Homo sapiens: one gene and its partner. The protein of the gene in region 2 interacts with the protein of the main gene of each other region in a biochemical or structural test. Each region holds a gene or a part of one and is shown on either strand. Other genes may lie near its edges.

What was found. Proteins that work in one complex are often made in the same cells at the same time.
Region 1: of the proteins of SNCAIP (region 2) and RNF19A, one has a biochemical effect on the other in vitro, tested with the Homo sapiens proteins (one study listed by BioGRID).

The regions. Positions count from the first base shown.
Region 1 is NC_000008.11:100,306,936-100,314,512, reverse strand, and holds the start of RNF19A (E3 ubiquitin-protein ligase RNF19A), read left to right. Parts: upstream 1-4,559; 5' UTR 4,560-4,646; exon of another isoform or gene 4,647-5,215; intron 5,216-7,577. UniProt on the Homo sapiens protein: E3 ubiquitin-protein ligase which accepts ubiquitin from E2 ubiquitin-conjugating enzymes UBE2L3 and UBE2L6 in the form of a thioester and then directly transfers the ubiquitin to targeted substrates, such as SNCAIP or CASR.
Region 2 is NC_000005.10:122,455,237-122,462,236, forward strand, and holds part of SNCAIP (synphilin-1), read left to right. Parts: exon of another isoform or gene 1-1,245; coding exon of another isoform or gene 1,246-1,299; exon of another isoform or gene 1,300-4,098; intron 4,099-7,000. UniProt on the Homo sapiens protein: Isoform 2 inhibits the ubiquitin ligase activity of SIAH1 and inhibits proteasomal degradation of target proteins. Isoform 2 inhibits autoubiquitination and proteasomal degradation of SIAH1, and thereby increases cellular levels of SIAH.

The sequences.
Region 1 (7,577 bases), on a different chromosome or scaffold from region 2:
GACACCAGGGAAGGGGCCAGGGGTAGGTTTAAGAGAAGAGCATGAGCTCTGGAGCCAGCCTGCCGGATGGTCCAAATCCCAGCTCTGCCACTTAGCTACGTAACTTTCAGCAAATTACTTAAACTCTTGTGCCTCAGATCCTAATTTGGGAGCTTTAGGGATTCTTGATGATAAACTAAGTGGCTTAATACTTATAAAGCAATCAGAATAGTGCCTGTCATATAGTATATGTACTCAATAAAAAGTATATATAGTATGTGTACTCAATAAAGTGAACATATAGTGTACTATATATAGTATATATAGTATGTATGCAATAAAGAGTAGTTCTCGGCTGGGCACGTGGCTCATGCCTGCAATCCCAGCACTTTGTAAGGCTGAGCTGGGCAGATTACTTAAGCCCAGGAGTTCAAGACCCACCTGAGCGACATGGCAAAACCTCGTCTCTACAAAAAATACAAAAATTAGCCAGGCATGGTGGCATGTGCCTGAAGTCCCAGCTACTCATGAGGCTGAGGGGGGAAGATTGTTTAAGCCCAGGAGGTGGAGGTTGCAATGAGCCAATATTGAGCCACTGGGTGACAGAGTAAGACTCTGTCTCAAAAAAAAAGTAGTTCTCTTTCTCTTTACTTGCCACTTTTATTCCATTCCATGCAAGTATGACTGATTATACCTCTAAAACCAAAACCAAAACCAAAACCATCCACTTCTGTCTCCACAGTCTCCACCTTGGTTCAAAGAACTATGACATCTTTATTGGATTCCTGGAATAGCCTCTTAACTGGTCTCCCTACTTCCACTCTTGCTCTGCCTTAATCTGATCCACAGAACAGCCTGAGTGATCCTTTTCAAAGACAAATCAGATGTCACGCTGCTTAAACATCTATTGTCTCATCACACTTCATACCAATCATTTAGAATTCTCCTTACCATACCTAAAAAGGTATTAAATCATCCAGCTGCCTCCTACTTTTCTGACCACCCCCCGTCCCCTGGCCCACGTCATACTCCCCTCCCTTTTGCTATGTTCAGCCTCTAGCTGCCTTGAATTTGACAAGTGTTTCTGGCTAAGACCTTTGCGTCTGCTGTTCCTCCGTCTTCCCCACCTCCTAACTAGTTTGCCTTCTTCTTGTCTTATAGAATCCAGCTCAAATGTCAGAAGAATTGACGTTAGTTTGAGAGACCAAACTAAGTTACAGCCTCTTTGGTTTCTGTTACTCTGGTAAGTGTATTTCCTTTTCATTATTTTTCCTTCTTTATTCCTCATCCCCCAATGTAAGCACCATGCAAACGGATATGTAGGCTTTTTCATTGCTATAGTCTCAGTGCCTGTAATGGCAAACACCCCATCCCCAATATAGTAAGCATTCAAATGTTTATCGAATTGATGTTAAATGAATTAGAAGAGAGGAGGGAAACAAAAGAGAATACTGCCAAAAATTAAGGCACCTGGGGCCAATTAGGCTTTTGCAGTATTCCAGTGGGAAATGATGAGGCCCTGGCAGTGGTTTCCAACCTTGGTCATGCATTGCAATTACCTGGAAAGAGGTTATGTATTTATTTTTGTTGTTGTTGTTGTTTTGTTTTGTTTGAGACAGAGTCTCGCTCTATTGCCCAGGCTGGAGTGCAGTGGCACAATCTCAGCTCGCTGCAACCTCTGCCTCCCAGGTTCAAGCGACTCATGCCTCAGTCTCCTGAGGAGCTGGGATTACAGGAGTGTGCCACCATGCCCAGCCAATTTTTGTATTTTTTATAGAGATGAGGTTTCATCATGTTGTCCCGGCTGGTATCAAACTCCTGGCCTCAAGTGATCCACTCACCTAAGCCTCCCAAAGTGCCGGGATTACAGGCGTGAGCCACTGCGCCCGGTTTTCTTTCTTTCTTTCTCTCCCTCCCTCCTTCCCTTCTTTCATTCTTTCTTGAGACAGGGTCTCACTCTGTCGCCCAGGCTGGAGGCCAGTGGTGTGACCAGGGCTCACTGCTGCCTTGACCTCCTAAGGCTATGGAGATGATCCTCCTGCCTCAGCCCCCTGGAGTAGCTGGGACTGCAGACGTGGGCCACCATGCCAGGCTAATTTTTGTATTTTCGCCATCTTGCTCAGGCTGGTCTTGAACTCCTGGACTCAAGTGATCCAACCACCTCTGCTTCTCAAAGTGCTAGGACTACAGGTGTGTGCCACCGTGCCCAGCACACTTGGGGAGTTTTAAAAACTACTGATGCCTGAGCACCACCCTCAGTGATTCTGATTTAATTGTTGGGTGCAACGTGGACATAAGAATATGCAGCCAAATTTGAAAACACTGCTCTAAAAGCAGAGGGAGATATAGAACAGAGAGCACAGGGATATTTCCGGGGTATAATAAACAGGACTTGGTGGTTAGTTATGAATTGGAAGGGACAAAAAGAATGGGGCCTGGGAACAATCCTAGGTTTCTGGCTTGTGTCTGGGTGAATGAAAGAAGCATGCTTTGAGGAAAGAACAAACTACATCTTGGACAGCCTGAATCTGAGGTGCCTCTAGGAATTCAAGTTGGGGATGTTCAATAGGTATTTGTTTTTTAATAGATTTATTTGGCCTAGTGAAGAATAGAAAGTCCTTCTAATTTTTAGGAAGACAAGAAAGCCAGAAGCAGCATCTCTGGAAAATATTACCGTTGTACAGAGTGTAAGACCATTTTCATTCCGCACAGCTTCTTTATTCAAAATCCCCTTTCAAGCCAGTGCCCCATCTGTGCTGAAATGTTGTTTAACATGTTGATCTATTTTCTTTTCTTTTTTTTTTTTTTTTTTTTTTGAGACGGAGTCTCGCTCTGTCGCCCAGGCTGGAGTGCAGTGGCGAGATCTCTGCTCACTACAAGCTCCGCCGCCCGGGTTCACGCCATCCTCCTGCCTCAGCCTCCCGAGTAGCTGGGACTACAGGCGCCCGCCACCACGCCCAGCTAATTTTTTGTATTTTTAGTAGAGACGGGGTTTCACTATGTTAGCCAGGATGGTCTCGATCTCCTGACCTCGTGATCCGCCCGCCTCGGCCTCCCAAAGTGCTAGGATTACAGGCGTGAGCCACCAATTCCGGCCAACATATTGATATATTTTCAAGAAGGATATTATATATGGGTACTTAACTTACTATTCTTGTGCTATCTGTAGGCTTAAAGCATCCCATATGTAAAGTCGCTGGCAGCCTTCAAGTAGCATTTAAAGGTATAACAGCTTTAAAACTTCCCATAAATGAAAATAAACATACCCATAATTACTTCCTTTAAGATTCGAGGCCAAAGACACTTAAACCTAAACTGCCTAGCTTGTTCAATTTTCTAATTGGTAAACATTTACTGGGTTACCAAAGATACCAAGTACATTCGGAAAGACCATGGCTCCTTGGTTTGTTTCTAATTTAAATTACACAGACACACTAAACAAGGACTGGGAGAGTGATATATTTAGTTAAGTAACAGATGGCAAATGGACATTCTGTCCAGCCTCTATCACATTCGTTTCTCAGTATTCTATGTTAGAGTGATCTAAATCTTGAAGAGAATAAACCAGGAGGAAATGCACCAGGCCCAGACGGAATTTGTTTATTCAACTAAGAATACCAAGACTAGTGTAGATTGAAACATTCAAAGGGGATATGACTGGCTGAAAAGATATGAGACGAAGGAACAAATAAAGCTGGATTAAAGTAATTAGGAATGTATTAGAGATGAAATAGGAATTCTGATTACTTGACTGCAAAATAGTAAAAAAAAAATGAAATAAAAGAGATGAATGGAAGATACTCTCCAAACCCTCACGTAGGCTTGCTATTGTGGCTAAGTACTGTTCCTAACAGCCTCTGCAAAGACAGGTGCACTAAGAGGGCGGCTGCAGACGCACAGGGTGCTGCCGTCCTCTGGGAAAGGACATTTCCTCGCCGAGAGCTGCAACATCCCGGCACTTCTCTCCCTCGGCCTGCCAATCTAGCAGGTGAACCCTGAGAACACAAAGGAATGAATAATGCCGGGCAAACTGCCAAGAGCCAGAGTCGCCGAGTCTGGCAACTCCCTTCAACCGGGCGCAGCTCCAGCCACCCCGACCTGTCCTTGGAGGAGACGCTCTCTGGGCCACGGAGAACCGGCCAGGGAGACACCGGCCCCACTGCCCGGCGCGCTCGAGGCGAAGTCCCCTCCGCCAGGGACAGGCGTGGGGGCCGCAGTCGGGGCCACCCGGGTGCAGCGGGGCGGCTCCTGCGCGGGCGCGGAACGAACGTGCGCAAGGGAACAGCCGCGTCCAGAGCCGCCCGCAGCGGGCCCGGTGGGCGTGACGCCATGACGCACAGCACGCGGGCGGCGCGCTGGGGCGGGGCGGCCGGGGGCGGGAGGAAGAAGTGGGAGGAGGAGGAGGGGAAAGCGGGGGCTGCGGGAGGGGGAGGTGGTAGTTGCGGCGCTGGTTCCCGGGAGCAGCCGTCGAGCCACAACTGCGGAGGAGGAGTTCGGGAAAGCGGCCGTCGGGACTCCTCCCCTCCGTCGTCTCCGCCCCGGTTGAGAGGCGCCTCGGCGCATCGGAGGGACCCTCCCCCGCGCTTCCTCAGGCTGCTGTCGCCGCTGCTGGGAGATGGGCCTACTCGCCCGCCACCCTGCGCTGCCGCCGCTCTGAGGAGTTAAAGGTACGGGCGGGCACCCGGAGGAGCTTGCGCCCCGGAGCGGGAGAGAAGGGGCGGCTCTCGCTTACGACCCAGGGAGCTCTGGCCGGGCCGCAGCCCTAGCGCCCCTGCCCGGGACAGAAATGGATTCGGAAGTCCGGTGGGAAAGGCGTCTCCTCCAGTGTCCAGCGTGGGCTCGGGGCCGTGGCCGGCTTAGGGGGTCAGGCCTCGGTCAGCTCCGGGTCCCCTACCCGGCCCAGGCGCGGGCGTCTCCCGGGCCGCGGGGGCCGAGGTGGAGCGTGGGATCCGCCCCAAGCCCTGTCCTCCTGGTGCCTGTGCGGCCGGCGGCCGGCCCGGCGATATTATGACGGGCCGAGGCGGCGCTCCCCTCGAGCTGTCTCCTGCCCCTAAAGCGGGGGAGACCCAAGGGCGGTTGCCGCGGGGAGGCGGCGGGGGCGGAACGCATTCCTGACGGGTGAAATCGGCTCTAACGGGACCGATTTCCGGGCCTCGCTGCAAATTTGGAGCCGGGACATCGCCCCGCAAGCCGTGCTGCCTGGGGCCTTAGGGAGGGGAGCTGTGTTCGGAGGAAGGTTAGTCCGGGACTGCTACCACCTCCTTCAAAAGCAAAAATTACACATCACACCAAAATGGTGTAGCCTTGGGGTGAAGTATGTGTTAACGGGGGTCTTCCGGGATTGTCTCCCCGTGCTAAGCCTTTAGGGTGTTCCCAGCCCTCGCCCGGCAAGTAATACTACTACTTTGAATTTTCAGTTTTTCTTATCTGGGTTCCACTCTGCAGTTGCTCTTTTTTTCCCATTTCCATTAATGGGAAGAAGAAAAAGAAGTTTAGGGTTCATTAACCCCGCGACAAGGGCAGTAAATAAAAAGAGGGAAGAGAGTGGTTAAGGCTATATATGGGAGAGAGAAACGTTTAATTTTTTCCCATTGACCCTTGGAGATATAAATACACGAACGATGCTTTACTCTGCTTAATGTTTACTGTCCACAGTGTTGCAGAATGTTCTGTTGGGGTGACGTTAGAAAAGACGGCGTTTAAGTGCCGTTGCAATTTTCAAACCTAGATGTTGGCTAGAAATGCTAATTTTAAGTGTTAGTAAACAGTAGAGGCTTAAAGCAGCCCTTTCCTTTGATCGGTTGTCTTAAATTGTGATCTTTACATTCCACATTTTTTTTTTTTAAAGAACATGGTTCTTTTCATTTTTTTAAAATATCTTTTCTTATTTTAACCTAGATTCATTGAGTTTTGGTTGTTTGAAGTCTGACGGTTTGCCTTAAGTTTTATTTTCAGTTTTGCCATTACCCGTCTTAATACACATTTTACCACTTCTGTTTATAATGCAAGCCATTACCCTGTTTGCCTGTTTTTGCTTCTTTAACACTGACTGAACTATCTGAATTGAGTTAAAATGTAAATACTTCTCTATTTAGAAAATGGCGATGATCGTATTTTCAAATGTTCTTTCCTTGTTACAGTTTCATGGTAAAAATTTAGAATTAAGTCTTGGGACTTAATAAACCAAATTATGCTAAAAAAACACTTTTAAAATTTGTTAGTTTAATGCCCTGCTTAATGTTCTCTTTTTTTAAATTACTGTATAAAATTTAACTGAAGTTTAAATTTTACGTGTCCATGGAAAATATTTTAATGTCATCGCAAGGTGTCTTTGAGGAAAAAATTACAGTTGGCAACTAATGTTAGTGTATTTTTTTCACTATCTTAGCTTCCAGGAGATTCCAGTAAGATTAATTTTTAAAACTGCAGCATCATTTTAGGAGTTGAAGCACAACCCAATTCTTAGTACCAAATAGTGGCCACTGGAAATTTTGTTTTCTCATTTAGGGGATGCCTCAGTTGATCAGTAGACTTAATATAAAGAACTGTCCATACTGTCAACCAGACAGTGTTGGGATTTTTAAACAAATTTTGGTGATTTCTTGAGTTTTTGATGTATTTTGCTTGACTGAAACTTATTTTCTGCCTAACACACGAGAGGTGCTAAGATTCCTATTTTTAAAGATACTTCATTCAAGAAAATGGATGAATAAATAAAATACTTAGCATCTTGGTGGAAAGTAAATGCACTTCCCAAATTTGAATGTAAGTGAAGTCGTAAAGCAGTATGTTTGCAGTTGAGGATGTAAGACACTTGGGTCACCTCTATTTTATTGGGGTTGGATTGAAGGATACTATTTGTTATGGGGTTGTTTAGAATTAAATATGGGTAATTAAAAGCAAACTTTTTGTTTTAACTATTTGAAATAATCACTTGTATATTATGGAAGATTCTGACACCCCCTCCCCACCACGGTTTTTTTTTTGTTGCGGCAGTTTGTATCTTGAACACTTATTTAGATTTATATAGAAATTTTTTGGTTTCAGATTATTTCTCCCCCTTCTCCAACACATATAGTTTGTTGTTGTTGTCGTTTTTAATCTACAGGGCACAGATGGTTGAGATATGTAGTTTTCTGTAATTTCCAAGTAGGGAAAAGAAGGCAAAATATTTGTGATAACATGTAAAAGTCCCTAGTCAAGTGCTGGGCGCAGAGTAAGCTGGAGATAAATTTTGTTATATTAATATTTACATCTGAATTGCTCACTTATATCTTCTCTACTCGGGTTATATAGGAAATCTTAGGGAATTGTTATTCGTTTTTCTAATGTCATTAATAAGTGAAAACTGACTGTCAAATGCAGGCTGGTTTTGTACTGAACTAATAAGCTTATGATCTTTTAACATTCTTTGCCAAGATAAAAATTAGGCCACCTTGGGCAAAAGCCCAAAGTAAAGTTGAATTTCTAAATTTACATTTCATTGCATATTGCATTGTATTTGGCAAACTAGCACATCATAGCAAAATGGTAGTTGAATTTAGATTGTCTGAAAGGACCCATGATTATATATGGAGTAGTACTTCAGCTTAAAAGCT
Region 2 (7,000 bases):
ACACACAGACAGAGAGAACTAGGCCGGTTCACTCCTGAGATAAAGCAAGAATGGATCTCTCTGGCTGAAATAAAGATTCTTCTGATAAATTAAGACTAGAGTGGGAATGTGGGCCTGAAAAATACCTAGGCTTGCCTAATTTTGCCTATGGGACCCCACTGCAAGAAGGAAAGGAACTAAAGTGTTCATCTCTCAGCTATGACTCCAAATCTTGGCCCCAAAATTTGCTTGACCACCAAATGGCTCCTCTCAGGTAGCAGGGATGCACAGAGTAGTATGACTTTGGAAGTCAGTGGCAGTCATTGGGTTGGAGTTGGGGCCAAATGTTATTGCCTCTACATGGCCCTATCAGCATATCCCTGGGGAAAAGAGTGAGGCGATGGATCCCGGTTCCAGGAATACATTGGAATTCCATTTTAGTTAAAAGAAATTGTTATTTTTTTCTGATAAAGGAAAAATAGGGACAATAAATATAACATTTTTAACATTTTAAAGAATGTCTGCTCTGTGAGGGCTCTGTTTGCTGTTTATTTTTCTAAATTGTTCACAGCTTGATAGCAAAAATCTAAATTTCTTTTCAATGCCCTTTAAAATTAGATTCAACTCTATTCCTTTGAGCAGCATCCCCAGTGTGATTCAACTGTAGAGGATCACTTGGTTTATAACAAGCAGATTTATCTTTACTTTATCTTACAAAAGACAAGTTGTTTTTAAGTTATTGTAACTCCAAGGAAATGTTTGCAATTACTTGTCTTAAAATGCCAGTGAAACATTCATTTCCCAGAGTTTAAGTCCATCTGAGATCTTTAGGGCACAAAGTGAGCAGTGATTCCAGTTACTGATAGGCAAAAGGGCATAACCCCTGGCCACCACCAGTAACACCCACTTTGACCACAGTTGCACAGTTGCCTGAGGGGTTAGGAAACGCCTAATCCTAGCACCAGCATTAGCATAGAGTCCTTAAAAATCATAAAGCAATAAACACCATTAGTGTGGGTTTTACTGCCAAGGTATTAGCCACACTGGGAACTTCATACTGAGAGCCAAGAGCTGGTATCAAATATTTTGCATAGATCTTAAGGTTGTTCAGCAGCCACTTCAAAGAGACTGGTCTGCTTCGCCAGTAGTGAGATGACATCTACTATAGTAATGGTCATCTGCTGTGCCCATTAGAGAGTCAGAGTTTAGGGTATCATTCCCCCACCCCTAACACACACAAACACACATTTCTGTCCTTATTGCCAGGACATCATACTAAACAGAAAAAGGAACAAAGATGTGGAAGACATTGGGAAGTAAAGGTGAGGCCCTGGCTGAAACCTGCTCCCAACCAGAGCATATCCTCAGCCCCACTAAAAAGCATTTCCAGAATCCTGATGGGAAAATGCAGCCAGTGCAACAAGACCCTGGTGCTGCTGAACAAATGTCTCCTTGCCATCATTTCTCTATATATTATCAAATAACCATATTTTAATCTTGCTTTCATTTTTTGACCTTAAAATGTTAACATTATTTTTAACTCATATGCTTGATTCTTGAAAGGATAATGATAAACCTACTCAATCATGTGGGTGTTGTTACCAAACTATGTAATATATGTTGAGTGCATCCTTCCAGAGACAGACAAATCTCACCAATGCAACAGTTCAGAAAAGTTTGTTAAAGCTGTTAATGAAAAAGTATTTAGTAAAGTAGTTGGTGCTTAACACTATAGACATTTGAGTTTTTGCTCAGAAACTGTAGTTTCATGTTTTTTATTTTTGTTTTGTTTTGTTTTGTTTTTGAGAAAGGGTTTTACTCTGTCACCCAGGCTGGAGTGCAGTGGTGCGATCTTGGCTCACTGCAACCTCCACCTCCCAGGCTCAGGCAATTTTCCTGCCTCAGCCTCCTGAGTAGCTAGGATTACAGGCGTATGCCACTACCACCCAGCTAATTTTTGTCTTTTTAGTAGAGACGAGGTTTCACCCTGTTGGCCAGGCTGGTTTTGAACTCCTGACCTCAGATGATCCACCTGCCTCAGCCTCCCAAAGTGTTGGGATTACAAGTGTGAGCCACTGCAACCAGCCTGTAGTTTCATGTTCTAAGCCCTGAACGGAAGTATAATTTTCTGTTTGCCTTTCTAACCTGCTGGCATCAGGCTGCATGCCCAATGAGCAAAAGTTGAAAGACAACAGCCAGGTGCCTGAAGTTGGGTGATTGCCTCTGCTCCAGAAACCCTTAGAGCAGCACTGACCCTCCCAGCTCCCATGCTTCCCCAGGTACTCTGTGCTCTCCCACAGTGTACCCCCAGGTGCTCCGTGGTTCCTCCCCACCAATGCTTCCCCAAGTGTTCTGTCTGTGTCCCCACCCAACCCCGCCAACTCTTTCTCTCTCTCTCACTCTCTCTCTCTTTCCTGCCTCCTCATGCTTCCTTAGGTGTTCTGTGTTCTCTGTCCTGCCCACACCCACCTCAGCCTCGCCTGTAGTTTCAAAGTATTTTCAGAAAGAAAACCCTCATTTTATACCATGACTTGGAGAAGAAGAGGAGGCTCTAAACTTGAACTATTTCTTCACATGAATTAAGCGACAGTTCCTTCTTTCAAATGTGCCAGGTTTTGGGGTTTCTATTGACCATTGCACAGTAGAATTACAGGGAATTGTTGCCAATAAGGCAGAGTCTTGTGTATAAAGAAAAAATGTCCATGTTATGAGAAGCCAGAATGATCACATCTTCCCAGTGTCTAAGCACAATTTAGCAAAGTCTTTATAGAGGCTGGCAGAGTTCCCAAGATGGATGCACAAATGGGGTGTCTTTTCATAAGCTCCTTACACTGGGAAAAGGAGAAAGCAGATTGCACCACAAGAAGACAGTGAAACAGTTTAGTTAGTGTCAAAGTATGATATGTTGAGACATAAAAAAGGCAGGGAAGACCCTCGTACTCTCTTAAATCACTATTCCAGGGAGGCAGGAAATGAATGTGTGGAGTTTGTGAACACCCATGAACCAACAGTAGGAAGACAACAGGAAGAGAACTGCCTTGGACACCAAAATCTTCCCACCAGACCATTTGCTTTCAACAAGCCGCTCCTGATTTAAGGATAGTCAGAAAACCTAAGGACAACTCACTTCTCCACCCCCACCCTCCTTTCCTTATTCCCCAGAGATCCAGTTTTGAATTGTGTGACCTCAAAGCACATACATGTTCTATTAATGTCATATTTGCACCACACGTCTGCCACCACTAGAGGCATCTTTGTACTTTAAAAGAACAGAGCCTGCCTGTATCTCTTAAGGCTGGAGTTTCAAAGAAGCAATAGGTTAGTTGAGTTTAAAAATACCAAATAGAGACTTTACACAGCCACTTTCCAGTGCCTTCATCAAGTATCCTTCCCCCGGCCAGTCACTGGTGCTCTTCGTTCCCACGCTGAGGACAGCGCGGATGGACAATCTTCCTAATGCCACATCCCTGGATGGCCGGGCCACTCTGCAAATATTTTCAGCTCTAAGCCACACATTTTGCTCTGCCAGGATAAGGCCTGATTCCTTCACTCAGGGAGATCATAATCAAGAGAGAATGAAAATAGGATTCAAGTAAAACATGGCAAGCTCTGTGAAAAAGGCCTAAGAGCTTCATGAAAATAGTAATCCCCAATAGCACCTTTGTACTCCACGTGTACTCCCAGTGTCTTGCTTGGTGCCTGGTGCATGATAGAGACTTCATAGATATTTGGAGAGAGGTGAAGCTAGAGAGAGGAAAAGTGGAAGAAGAGAGAAAAATATGAATAAAAAAAGGACTGAGCCTGTCTTCCCACAGCGGGGAAAAATGGTGTGTTCTTTATCAATATTGGCCTTCTGGTCACAAGTCCACCTACCCACAGTGAGTTTCCATTTGGGCACTTCAAATACAAGTTTTCATGCCTTGAACCAAAATCCATTTCTTAGTAGATGAGACTTATAGATGTGCTCTCAGTCAAAACTCTGAGGGAGATCACAGAAAATAGCAAGGTTTCCCTGTTTTGGTTATCAGCGGAAATGTCGTGCGTGCCGTGGACCATTCTACATGGATGCTGTAAGTTGCAGTCTGGTCACCATGGACTGTGGAAATCTGCAATCCATGCCTAGAAGAGTCAGCAAGTTAGAACACTTGAAAAACTGTTATTTAAATTTAAGCTTTTTTTCTTTCCAATTTTGGTCACTCAGAATGTGATTTCATATCCAAAAATGAAATAGAGGAGTAGCAAATTATCTGAATAATTCATGCCAGAATTACCCAAACACTTTCGTTCTTTGAATACTGTTAATTTGGGACTAGGTAATTGAAGGGTTCAGGGAGGATTGAATTATCCTGATATTTTTCAGATAAATGCCTCAAGTTAATATTTTACTTGGTACAGACTTAGCTCTAATCATAAGGGGTTTTGTCCTGCAGAAAGAGTGCTCATTTTAGTGTTTTTGACCACAGCACCTCTTATATTAAAGCAGAAATGCCCATCAAAGTCTAAACTTTATTATCTTTAGACTATGACCAAAACCTTCTTTTAAGTGTTCTATTTTAATTTATTGTTAAAGTGATATAGATACTTATAAGAGTAATACTAGCATTATAATAAAGACTGGATGTGCCCTGTGCCAAACCCACCCCCTTCCCTAGCCTCACTCTTTTGAATCGACCATTCACTTTTCCTTCAGGTGTTTTCTCTAGTATTCTCTATTTCTAAGTAACATGCTCATACAGATTTTCAGTTTCAAATAGTATCCCTGTTATCTACTGGCATTCTACTATAGAAAATCAAAATGATAGCACTTATAAACACTTATAAAGCACGTACAGTATCCCAGAGAATATTTCAGGTGCTTTACACATATGTACTATTTTAATCTTCTCAATGACACTATGTGGCAGATACTTTTTTTTTTTTTTAAGAAACAGGGTCTTGCTCAGTCACCTAGGCTGCAGTGCAGTCGTGTGATCTTGGCTCACAGCATCCTCTAACTTCTGGGCTCAAGAGATCCTCCCACTTCAGCCTCCTGAGCAGCTAGAACTACCAGCATGTGCCACCCCACCCAGCCAAGCAGATACTATTATTATCCTAATTTTGCGTATTGGAAACTGAGACATAGAATGATTACATATCTTGCCCAAGATTACATAGTAATGATGGCAATAAATTGTGGAGCCAGGATTTGAACTCAGTCTGGCTCCTAAATCCGTATTTTTAACAATGATCCAAATGTGTCTAGCTCCATTTTAGCATCCAACAATCCAACACTGCACCTGTTCTCTCTTGTTCTGTCTCTCTCTTTCCCTCTCTTTCCTATCTCTCACACACGCACCTACACACATGCACACATTCCTGCTTCCTCTTCCTCCCACCCCCATGAATATAGTTGTATCACTCTCAAGAGCTAAATCAGTATTCAGTGTTAATTATCATTATGGTTATTTAAATATTAATCACAAGGACTCATTATGTTGTCCTATGTTATATTTTCTTTCTCATACAATTTTATGTTTGCCATGGAAATAATTTTGGTTTCTTAATTTACAATGCGTTTCTAAACACTCTGCTGAAGACCAAACCATCTTTTAGCACCCTCAGACAGCTCAGGTGTTTGTCAGTTACTCTCTGTTCATGGAGACCCCTCCTCCTGCCCCCATCTTCACTGCTGCCTCCTGGCACTGCCACACAGCTATCATCCTGGAGTCTCTCATGCACATCATCCTGGGAATTCCTTGTGCTTCTCTCCTGTTTAGACTCTGTTTCCTGAACCTGTCTTTTCCTTTCTATTTTGTTTATTCTCATGCTTCAGTCATATATCTTCCCACCCAAGGAAGGTAAACAGTTGCTAATTTTTTTGAGACCCTGACAGTCTGAAAATATCTTCAATTTACCAGATTGAGTGTTTGACTCAGTATAGGATTCTAGGTGGGAAATTATTCTCTTTCAGAATCTTGAACACATCATTTCATTTTCTTTTGCTTCTAATGTGTCTGTTGAGAAGCCCTATTCTTCTCTGCCAATGGCTTGGAAGATTTTATGATTTCTTCTTTATCTCCAATATTTTGATTTTTTGATGCTTTGCCATGATGTGGGTCTGTTTTCATTCCTGGGCTGTGGGCACTCAGCAAGCTTTTTCAATCTGGAACCCTCAGTACTTCAGTTCTGGGAAATGTTTTGTACAATTTCTTTGAAAATTTTCTCTTCTCCAATTTCTCTGTTCCCTCTTTTGAAAATCCTCTTATTCTAATGTTAGACACACTGGACTGATCCTCAGATTTTCTAATGATTCTTCTCTATTTTTCCATACTTTGACTTTTTCTAGTTTGAATCTCTAATATATCTACTGAAACTTGCCTTTCAATCTTGCTATTGAATTTTTTATTTCTGTTATAATAATATTAATTTCCAACATCACTTTACTGGTCTTCTCTTTGTTCCTTTTTTATAGCTGTTTTTTTTTTTTTTTCTTTTTCTTTTTGAGACAGAGTCTTGCTCTGTCACCCAGGCTGGAATGCAATGGTGTGATCTTGGCTCACTGCAACCTCTGCCTCCTGGGTTCAAGTGATTCTTATGCCTCAGCCTCCATAACTGGGACTACAGCCACCACACCTGGCTAATTTTTGTATTTTTGGTAGAGACAGGGTTTCGCCATGTTGGCCAAGCTGGTCTCGAACTCCTGACCTCAACTGATCTACCTGCCTCAGCCTCCCAAAATGTTGGGATTACAGGCATGAGCCACCATGCCCGGCTTTTATAGAGTTTTATGTGCAAATCTTATTTAAATTTTTGCAGTCAAATACAAATGCGTATCTTTATCTTCCTTTTTACAATAAAGGTGTCGCACTGTACACACAGTTTTGTTTCTTGCTTTTTTTTATCTGACACGTTGGAGGACTTTATGTGTTAGTATATAGAGAGCTTCTTCATTCTTTAACATAGTTGCTATCATCTTCAGAAGTACACGGTGCTTCTAATTCCTGCATCTGGTAGTGCAAATCAGTTAGTTGGATTCCCTGAC